2 separate regions of the Homo sapiens genome follow, and region 1 is linked to region 2. The links come from fine-mapping of genetic effects on gene expression. A gene starts in region 2. The other region holds a variant in brackets. All regions are shown on one strand. Distances are between the middles of the regions. Region 1 overlaps DTX4 (deltex E3 ubiquitin ligase 4). Region 2 holds the start of DTX4 (deltex E3 ubiquitin ligase 4).

The links. PIP is the estimated chance that this variant, and not a neighbour inherited with it, causes the effect. A credible set is the group of variants that fine-mapping cannot tell apart.
Region 1: its variant is the best candidate, but not a certain one, in a credible set for the expression of DTX4 in subcutaneous fat (GTEx, PIP 0.78).

The regions. Positions count from the first base shown.
Region 1 is chr11:59,202,094-59,207,467 of GRCh38, forward strand. DTX4 (deltex E3 ubiquitin ligase 4) reads left to right here. Exons shown (of 9, transcript NM_015177.2): 9 at 2,583-5,374. The coding sequence ends at 2,816. Among named protein-coding and RNA genes, the nearest start is that of MPEG1, 8.1 kb to the right of the region's middle. The variant T/C (reference allele first, on the strand shown) is at 2,935.
Region 2 is chr11:59,168,975-59,174,348 of GRCh38, forward strand. DTX4 (deltex E3 ubiquitin ligase 4) reads left to right here and starts at 3,158. Exons shown (of 9, transcript NM_015177.2): 1 at 3,158-3,832. The coding sequence starts at 3,622. LOC124902601 (basic proline-rich protein-like) reads right to left here and starts at 4,471. Exons shown (of 2, transcript XM_047427951.1): 1 at 4,291-4,471; 2 at 1,101-3,756. The coding sequence starts at 4,471. The coding sequence ends at 2,948. It overlaps LOC124902675 (a long non-coding RNA gene), which reads right to left. Exons shown (of 4, transcript XR_007062682.1): 4 at 4,725-5,374. RefSeq lists enhancers at 2,295-2,835, 2,922-3,216, 3,844-4,672, 4,115-4,224 and silencers at 3,095-3,664, 3,725-3,774.

The DNA of each region.
Region 1 (5,374 bases), 33 kb after region 2:
GTGTAAAAGAAATAAAATGAAGAAACAACAAAGTGCACTCTTCTCAGCTTGACATATAAGACCTACTACAGTGTGAGTTAAACCTTCTCCTCACACCAATTTCTCATCCTTATCCTTCACATTTGCTGTTCCAGGACCCTAACCTTGGGCTTCCTTGTAGATTGAAGTATAATTAGAGGATGGGCTTTGAAGCCAGACCAGCCTGGGTTCAAGTCCCATTTCTGCCATTTACTAGCTGTGGGAACTGGTTGGCTTCATGTCTTGAAGTCTCAGTTTCCTAATCTGTAAAATAGTGGTGATGATTTGCATCTGTATGGACAGGATGTTGGAAAAATTAAATGAAAATATCATTTGTAAAATGCACAGCATAGTGACAGCAATTGTAATTTATCCATGCCTTGGGTTTATATTTGTTTACTATGTCTATACATCCTTCTCTATTGATATGCCCCCAAATCCTTCCCTTCCTTTACTACTCAGCTCAGAAGCAACCTCCATGAATTCTAGACTGATTCCCATCTGAGAGTCAACAGAGTGGTGATTCAGACCATGGGCTATGGAGTCAGGCAGTCCTGAAATCAATCCCTTAACCCCACCGCCCCTAGCCACTTACTAGCTATAAGACCAAGGCAAGTCTTTTACCTTTTGAGCCTCTGTTTCCTTGAGAGGGATGATGAGAGTCCAGTTTTCTGTCATTTAATGACAGGGATATCATTATTATTAGACAGCTTCATCATCATACAAACATCGCAGAGTGTACTTACACAAAACTAGATGGAATAGCCTATTACACAGCTAGGCAATATGGTATAGCCTATTGCTTCTAGGCTACAAACCTGTACACCATGTTATTTTATTGAATACTATAAGTAGTTGTATAATGGTAAGTATTTGTGAATCTAAACATTGAAGAGGTACAGTAAAAATACAGTATAAAAGATAAAAGTGGTATATCTGTATAAGGCACTTACCACGAATGGTACTTGCAGGACTGGAAGTAGTTTTGGGTGAATCTGTGAGTGAATGTGAAGGCCTAGGACATTGCTGTGCACTACTAAAGACTTTATAAACACTGTACACTTAAACTACACTAAATTTATTAAAACTACTTTTCTTTCTTCAATCATAAACTAACCTTAGCTTATTGTGACTTCTCCATTTAAAAACCTTTTAACTTTTTTCACTTTTCACCTGTTTGTAACAACACAGCTTAAAACACAAACACATTGTACAGCTGTAGAAAAATATTTTCTTTAATCCTTATTCTATAAGCTTGTTTATTTTTAAAAACTTTTTTTTTTTTTACTTCTGAAACTTTTTGTTTAAAATGAACACACGAACATATACCTTAGCCTTGACCTACTAAGGGCAGAATCATCAGCATCACTGTCTTCCACATCCATATCTTATCCTGCTGGAAGGCCCTGGGGACAATAACAGGAGTGGAACTGTCATCTCTTATGATAACAATGCCTTCTTCTGGAATACCTTCTGAAGAAACTGCCTGAGGCTGTTTTACAGTTAACTTTTCTTTTCGTAAATAAGTAGGAGTGCACTCTACAATAATGATTAAAAGTACAGTATAGTAAGTACAGGGCAATAGGAATTTCTCAGCTCTATTGTAATCTTGTGAGATCACCATTGCATATGTGTTCAGTCATTGACCAAAATGTCACTATGTGTGGCACATGGGCATACCTATATCATCTGATTACTGTAACGATTATATGTCCCAATGCCCAACACTGAGAAAGTAAACACTCAGGAAATAGCAGCTCATATTTCTAATGTCTGCTTTCATTACTAATACTATTATGGTTTCCTCTCCTCCAGCCCATACCATGTTTACAGTAGTTCAGTTTTCAACCCAAGACATTTTCACTGGATGCTTTTTCTTCATGCTGGACACTACTCTGACCAAGGCCTGGAACAGGGCATTAGCCACTAGTCTTGCTCAACAAACATTTTTTTTTTAATTTAACTGATTTAGAACATTCTGCAAGCCCCAAAACTTTCTTTGAGCCTCAGTTTTCTCACCTCGAGAAAGTCAGAGTGCTCCAAGATGTCACTAGAAAAATAGTGCACAGCTTCAGCTTTGGATAAATTAATACTACATTGAGGTAGTGGTGGCAGTAATGAAGGGCAGAACTTCAGAAGTTCTCAGATCATAAGCGCCTTCAACTCCTAGATCCTGTCTTTCAAAATGCAGCCGTTATGTTGGCAGATAACATTTATCAATTAGTGCGTTGTAGGCACTGGTGTGAAAATACTTTTCATGGAGTGTCCAGTAAGATGTTCACAACGTTTAGAGGCAGATTGTACCATTGCCATTTCATAAAAAAATTAATGTTCAGAGAGGTGCTATAACTTCTCCAAGGTCACACAGTTATTCAGTGACAGAGCCAGGACTCAGCCTGTAGCTCCCAAACTCCAAGTCCAAATCTCTTTCTTTCCCCTGGGCTGCTTAGGGTATCATGATGCAGGAAGGGATGGGGCCCTTGGGAGGATTCTCTACCGTCCAAGGGATAGTCTTTGACTGCCAATTAATGTCTGCCTTTCATGTCCCACTTTTATCCCTCTAGGTTCTGAAGCTGCTGCTCGTGGCCTGGGATCGCCGCCTCATTTTTGCCATTGGCACCTCCAGCACCACAGGCGAGTCAGACACCGTCATCTGGAATGAGGTCCACCACAAGACAGAGTTTGGCTCTAATCTCACTGGCCATGGCTACCCAGATGCCAATTACCTGGATAATGTGCTGGCTGAACTGGCTGCCCAGGGCATCTCTGAGGACAGCACTGCCCAGGAGAAGGACTGAGGCCAGAAAAGCTTTGAGGTGGGAGGGGCCATGGAGACTGCAGGACAGGAAGTGAGGAGAGTGAGTCAATGTAGAAGAAGTTGGTGTCCTGCCCTCCCAACTTTCTATCCTCCCCTCC[T/C]GCCCTGTGTCCATCCCTCATCCCTCCCAACCACAGTGGGAGCCAGACTGAATATAGCGACATCATTCATAAATCTCATCCAACACAAAGGGAGATGGGATGAGGGCCATCCTGGGTCTGTTCCCATGGAGTTTTTGGTGCTGGGTAGGCAGGAATCCCCTCCCTACCCCACCTCCCAAGTAGGGGCATGGTCAGCACACCTAGGGTATGGGCAGTGCTTAGGCACTCCATATCCTGGCTTTGGGAAGCCGGGGTTTCTTGCCTCAGCCGGCTTCTTGCTACTTCCACTCTGCTTTGAGACTGGAGTTTCTGCTATTCTCCCTCTGCTGGAGGCAGGGAGCTCTCACTGTGCAAGGTTGGGGGGTGGGCAAAGGGGTGAATCACTAAACTGCTGTGACATCAGAAACTGATGCCTTGGTGTAGAGCAAGGAAGCACTTCTTCCCAAGAGGGTCGGAGAAGGAAAAGCCTCTGGGAGCACATTCTGCTGTCATCACAGTCCTTGGCTTCTCTGGGCCCTCCTCTCCTCCTCACAGCTCTCACCTGTCCAAAGAGGCATCTGGTTCTCTCATGTGGATGGATGGACTCTGGGGTTCCTCTTTGGAGTGGCATCCCATGATGCTGTTTCTAGACCCTCTCTGATCAAACCAGAGCCTGCATCCCACTGAGCATCTGAACTGTCCTCAGGGAGAGGAGCCCACAGCCTTCTTCCCAACTCATTCTAGACCAGCTCAAAGATTCCATGAGTTTCATCGAGTCACTGTGAGTGGAGCCCATGCTGGGCTCTGTGCCCTCTGTGTCTGTGCATGCGCGTGTGTGTGTGGGCGTGTGTGCATTGCTGGGCCAGCTTGAAGGGAAGGCCCGTCATGTCCCTGCACTCTGTTTTGCAAGATGCCAAACCCCAGTTCTGATGGGGCTCCAACAGCCAGGCTGTGGTCCTTTGACGTTCCTCACCTGTTGCCAACCTATCCCGTAGTGAACTGAAACCCCAATGAAGACAGAACTGTGCCTGGGGAGATGCAATGAGGTGAGGGCTGAACTCATCCTTTTATATTTCTTTTCAAGATTGGATCAGAGCTCATCTCCATCCAGTCTTGTTTCTATGAAGGCTTCAATCTGTTTCCATGCAAATTTGCTAATCAGAGCCCAGAGCTGCTGGGTCCCTCATCTCCCTCATCTATTATAGATTGACTTACAGCAGGGAGAGAATCTCTTTAGCTCATTCCTAATGGAGTTGGGATCACAATATGGTCTGGTCCAATCTGCATCTTGTTGTGTCCCAAGACCCTATCTCCTCCCCAACATTCTTATTGCCTTTGGCTCCCAGTAAGGAACGAATTGGGGGCCAGGGAGGAGAACAGGGGGGATCAAGAAGGGAAACCCAATTCCCCCTTTGAAAGTGGGTTCTTTGAACTATGTGTTTGGGGGAAGTTCCTCTGGATACTAATTTGAATTTATATACCTCATGTTTTGGGGGTTTGACGTATATATATATATATATATATGCATATATATTTCATAATATTTGGAAGGTTTTTGATGCTAGAAAAATGGAAACAAGAGAACCTTCAAAAATGGTACTTAGATGGGAACTGGAGGCCAATCTTTCATAAAGCCAGCCCCATAGCTGCTTGCTGTTAGGCCTCCAGCCATTTTGACATTGGGGTGGATAGTCGATTCACCTGCCTGTCAGTCGATTCACCTGCCTGTCACCCAGTTCTGTGGATGTGCTGGTGCTGAGCCTTTGCTCTCTTTCCAAATGGTTACAGGGATGTTGATCAGCTCCACCAGAGGGAGCTCTGATGGGAGGAATTGCTCTGCCATCCTTGTCCCTGTGTCTCCTGTCGGCAGGCAGCCATTGTATCTCACCAGCAGACCAGGAGACTGGTCCCAAGGTTACTGCACCACAGGGCAATTTCCTGCCATAGTTAGGAAGGAAACACCTGAACTAAATGGAAGAGACATCCCTGCGGTGTTTAATATCACACCCATGCCCTTTGTCAGGTTACCATGTACAGAGATTACTTGGAGAGCCTCATGCCGTCTCTACCTTCGCACACTGGTCAAGTATCTGCTGAGCTTCTTGGCCGCAAGGATGCAGAAATAGGCTGAGGGTCCATGGGAAGAAAGACACAATGAGGCAGTAGGAGGTGGGGAAGAAAAGAAGACAGACTTTCAAAATGGAATTAGGCACTGGGGAGAGATCAGTTTCCCCACATCAGGGAGAAGAAGGTATAGGTGGGGAAGGGGGTGGCCAGGAGCAGAAGGAAGAAGACTCAAGATGGAAAGGGAGCCGCTGTGCCTGTGGCAATACCACTTGGAGAGGTCGACTTCATACCTTCAAGCCTTTTCCCCTGGGCTTTTGATTGTGTCTGTGCCCCCTTTCTTGTCCTCTCTGCAGATGCCCAGTAGGGGCTACCTCATCCTCGTGCTGTTCTTGTG
Region 2 (5,374 bases):
ACACACAAACACGAGGGGACTTCCAAAAGTTTGTGAAAAATAAAATTAAAAAACAAAATAAAAAATGTACACTTTATTTCTCAACATAAGCACCATCAAGTTCAAGATATTTTGTAGGTGATGATATGAATCATTTAGTCCATCACTAAAGAACTGAGTGTCCTGGGACCCTAACCATATCAATGCAGTTTTACTTTACTATAGAAAAACAGATGCTCTTTAAAAAATTTTTTAAGATTAGGAAACAAAAAGAAGTCAGAGGAGCCAAATCAGGACTGTACAGCAGATTAAAAGATTTTCCATCAAATTGCTCACAAAAGTGCGTTTGTTTGATGAGAGGAATGAGCATGAACATTGCCATGGTGGAGAACGACTCTGGTGAAGCTTTCCCAGGTATTTTATCCTAAAGCTGTTGCTAATTTTTGCAAAATACTCTCATATTAGGCAGATGTTATTGTTCTCTGGCCCTCCAGAAAGTCAGTAAGTAAAATGCCTTGAGCATCTCCAAAAAATTGTTGCCATGGTCTCTGCTTTTGACCAGTGCACTTTTGCTTTGACTGGACCACTTCTACCTCTTGATAGCCATTGCTTTGGTTGTTCCTTGTCATCAGGATTATACTGGTAATGTTTCATCTCCTGTTACAATTCTTCAAAGAAATGTTTCATGATCCTGATCCCACCCATTTAAAATCTCTATTGAAAGGCCTGCTCTTGTCTGTGGCCAACCTGGGTGCAATGGTTTTGGCACCTATCAAGGAATGGAAAGTTTAATTTCTTTGTCAGAATTGTGTAAGCTGAACCAGTTGACATATCTATGGTGTAGGCTATTGTTTTGACTGCTAATCCTTGATCCTCTTCAGTAAGGGCATTGTCTTACCCTTCTTAGTGTCTCAAACTAGATCCTGTTCAGACATGTTATAACAAGTTAGTATGAGTTTATTTGGGTGCAAAAAAACAATTTGAACTACCAGCCTAGTTTTTTCATAATATGCATTTTCCATAAAATTTTAAAGACCCCTCTCATTTGTGTGTATATGTGTGTATGTGTGTGTGTGTATTCACTTCCTCTTGCAAATGAATCAGACTACATACAAACCTTCTCACATGTCATAAGATATTTTTATTCTGCTGTAATACTCTGTTGTGTTTAACATGGAAGATACAAGAAGACCAGATACAAAACTAGGCTGGACATAGGCAGGTAGGCGTCAGTTTCCTTCTGCCTTCCATTCGCCTTTCAAACAGCTCATCTAACATTTGCTGGTAGCCTGCTTATCTAGTTTAGATTTTTTTCACCTTGGAATTTCTGGCTTAGCTGGTCAGGTGCTATATTTTCGCTGGTACTTCCAATATCCCCTTGAATCATTACTCTTCACTTTTTGATTCATACTTACCAAGACTATAAGAAAGTTTCCTGAGTTTTGATACTTTCCATTTTTATGACTAGAAATAAAAGTAGCCCAATAAATTTTTAAATTACTTTTTCTTCAGTTTGCCTTCTGTTTCTTTTCCAGAAAATTCTACCCCCATTTTCTCCCTTCCCTTCTTTCACACTGAGACACTTCTACATTGCCTGTTATTGTGCCACCTCTGTGTTGTATAGGACATGCTATGGAACAGGCATTTTCTTTTGAGACAGCCCAACTAAATTTTGAATACTGGTTTCCCCTCTAACTAGCTATGTAATCTAGGGCAAATAGTTTAAATTCCTTAAGTCCTGTCATTTGTAAAATGGTAATAATAATGGCCTATGATATAATTAGTCGAGGTATCCTTGTTTTCTTTTTGTTCTTCTAATTCTGAAACTCGACATTTTAATGAGTGGTATTGTTTAGGTTGGATTAGGAACAGTCCCCAAATAAGGGAGAGGCCGACTAGGCATTTTGGAGGCCAAGCTGTGCAAGAAGACCAGAAAGAACAAAGCTCAGAGGTTCCTTGAGCCTGGTGCCTTTAGGGGCCTGAAGAAGAACAGATCTCACACTTTTTCTTTTGCTTTGTATTTAGAACTCTGTTGGGAGAAAGATAAAGGTAGAAGGATGCAAAATTCTAACAATGGGAGAAATGACAGCTGCAAGGAGAGGGAGGGGGAAGCAACTCTTCTAAAACATAAAAGGGTCATATGATATTTATGAAAAAATTGATTATTTCAAAAAGATTCACAATCCCATTCTCTAACACATAATCTATTTTTACTTTCCCGCATCCTATAACTTGGATCTTGATAAGACTCGATTCGTTGTTTTATGTGGTTTGCAATCTCAACAAAACAAAATTTGTGTTCTTTGACAAGGATAATGCATAATCCTGACTTCAGTCTTCCCTTTTAGTCAGAACCTACCTATTTAAGGTTATTTTCCATATTAACTATTGATGATCAAAATAAGTCTAACTCGTGTTTTTCCTAGTGTTTCATAATTTTAGTTACAGAAACGATGCAGATAAAATTAATCTAACATGCGTCTTCCTGACTCTAGTACGTTGAATCTGGCCAGAAAAACCACATTTGCTCTCTACGTAGGTAATATAAATCCATCATTAGCGAAATTGCTGCATCCCTTTGGACTGGGTCTCATTAGCAGAGGTTGGAGTGGCCACTGGCCGGCACACGACACTTTAGGCCAGCAGGGGGCGGGTAAGCTCCAGGGCACTCGCCCGAGCAGCAGGGGGCGTGTCTTCTGCTTCCTTGACGGACAGCTAAGGATGCGGGAGAGGATGAGGTAATAGGAGCCGGGGCAAGGAAGGAGTTGGGGTGCGCGCGCGTGTGTGTGCGACTGTGAGTGTGCCAGTGCGTGCGCAAGCCCCGAGACAATGCGTGTCTCCAGTTCGCGCTGCGGACACTGATCATGCTGCATTAAGGAAAAAAAAAGAGAGAGAGAGAGAAAATTACATTTGGGGGAAGGAGGCTGCAAAGTTGCGGCTGGGCGACAGTGGTGGTCCCGGGGCCGTGTCATGGCGGGTCGCTTCTCTGCATCAAGGAACCAGGGAAACACACGCGGGCGCGGGTTTGCCTTAGCGCCCTGCTTGGGAGGGGTGGTTCATTCTGGAAGGAACTGAGCAGAGCCACAGGCAGGGGGAGCTCTCCCAGCGGCGGGGACTGCAATTCGTGCGGCGAAGGGGTGGGGAGGGAGGGAGAGAGGGGAGGGGACCAGAGCGTGCCATTCCGAGCGCGGCCGTGCGGCGAGATCCCACCCCGGCGTCTGCAGAGGCCGAGGCGCAACTGGTGCGAGGGCTGGGTCCTTGCCTCGCCGTCAGCCCCAGCTCGCGGCCGCCGGGGCTCGGGCCGCGCGCCCGCCGAGTGGCTTTTGCAAGGCGGGGGCCTGTTTGCAGAGAGCCGGGCATTTGCATGAAGCGACTCGACCCCACAGAGCAGCGGCAGCAGCAGCGGACCCCGGCGGCGGCGGCGGCGCGCGGTCCCAGCCAGGCGGCCCCGGTGTCCCGGCCCCGGTGGATGCACGGCTGGGGAGGAGCCCATGGGCCGGAGCTGAGGCTGCCCGGGGCGGCGGGGCGCGGGGCAGGGGGCGCGGTCGAGGCCCGGAGGCGGCGGCGCAGGAGGAAGCGGAGGAGGTCGGGCGCTCGGGGCCCGGGAGGCGGGCCGCGCAGCGCCGCAGCCCCGGGCTCGCCATGCTCCTGGCCTCGGCCGTGGTGGTCTGGGAATGGCTGAACGAGCACGGCCGCTGGCGTCCCTACAGCCCAGCGGTGAGCCACCACATCGAGGCGGTGGTCCGCGCCGGCCCCCGCGCGGGGGGCAGCGTGGTGCTGGGCCAGGTGGACAGCCGTCTCGCGCCCTACATCATCGACCTGCAGTCCATGAACCAGTTCCGCCAAGACACGGGTGAGCCAGCCGCCCCTGACCCCGCCCCGCCTGCTCCCACCTTCCCAACCTGCCAAGGTACCTCCCTCCCTGTGAACCCACCTTGGCCACCTAGTCGGCACTTCTGTGCAGCAGTGTCACCAAGAGGTGGTGGTGGGAGGCGATTCACTCCGCTGAATCCTCGCAGGATCCTCCCTCCCCCTTAAACATCCATGCAAATAGTATCAGTGTTGTGGTTTTGCAAACCCAGCTTCAACCTAGTCGGTAACAATCCACTCCCCACCCCTTTCATGCCCCCGCTTTTCAGCAGTTGGTGGCCCTAAGTCTTTCTATGTAGAAATTCTAGGGCCGCCCCAGACTACAGGCAATCCCAGCCCTTCGCAAAGGCTTCCTGCCCTCATCCCGTGGCGGCCGGCACCTTGGCTGACCTGACCCTGTTTTGCTTCAGGCACGCTGGGGCTTGCCACACGTCCCCTCACCCCCGATCTCACTGCCTCTGCGTCTCCTGTGTGGGATGCCTCCCCGCAGCTGGGTCCTGGGTGTGGGAACTGGGGGAGGAAGAAGGGATTCCCCGGAGGTTCTCGCTACAGTCGGGTAAGGGAAGCGCCGGGCTCCCTGGGAGGAGAGACTAGGGCTGGGGTACCCTGGACGCCGCGGCATTGGCGAATGCCTCTGCTACACACTACATGCGCGGAAGCAACAGGCCGGAGCAGATGGAGAGAGGAGGGGGAGGCTCGGGGCTTCGGAATGCATGGCAGGGAAGCCGCTCCCTTTGTCTGCGGAGGAGGAGGACGCAGATTCCTAAGGAGAAACTGTCCCCAGGCTTCCTCTTGAAACCATAGCCTGTAAGGAACCCATGGTCTCCTGGAGCGCCAAACTCCTATCTTTTCATGAGAATCAAGTTGTCACTGTAGCCAGCACAAACCCGCTTCCCAGCTGACCTGCCTTTCCAGGTCAGAGCCAGGAAGGGAGCCTCCAGGATGGGGCCTTGGGGGGTGGGGAGTGGGGGTGCTGCCCAAGGGAGAGCAAAACTGCCTCTCTTTGCTCGGTCCTTGCTTAATCGATGACCCGGGAAGAGTTTCTGCCTCCGTCAGTGACAGGTGGGGAGGGGGCCATTGTTTCTGGAATTCTGGCTCGGCTTTCCCAAGAGTGCAACCGAGGAGCCTGGAGAGGCCGGTGTGCTGGGGAGGACGTAGAGAAGATGACTCGGAAAGGCCCTCCCCAGTGAACAGCTGTTTGAGCAGAGTCTCTCTGCTTCCTTGGAAAGCCCCCACATCCTGTGTGCTAATTAGGATTGTCATGGGAAAGGGGTATCTTTCCACCCTCATGTCCCCATCTTTAGTCATAACTCCCAGCAACCCCTTTGCCAAGGACTCTGCAGACACTGGCTGATTGAGGAGAGCTTTCTGGGGAGAGGATTCTGGAAGTGTTAGAATCTGGAGGGGCTTCAACCGTGTGTGGAGCTGAGGGAGACTGGGAGGAGCAGAGAATAGAGAGGAATGTGGGGAGATTGAGAAAGAGGATTAAGTGTGGCTGAGGGGGAGGGAGAGAATGTCATTGCGC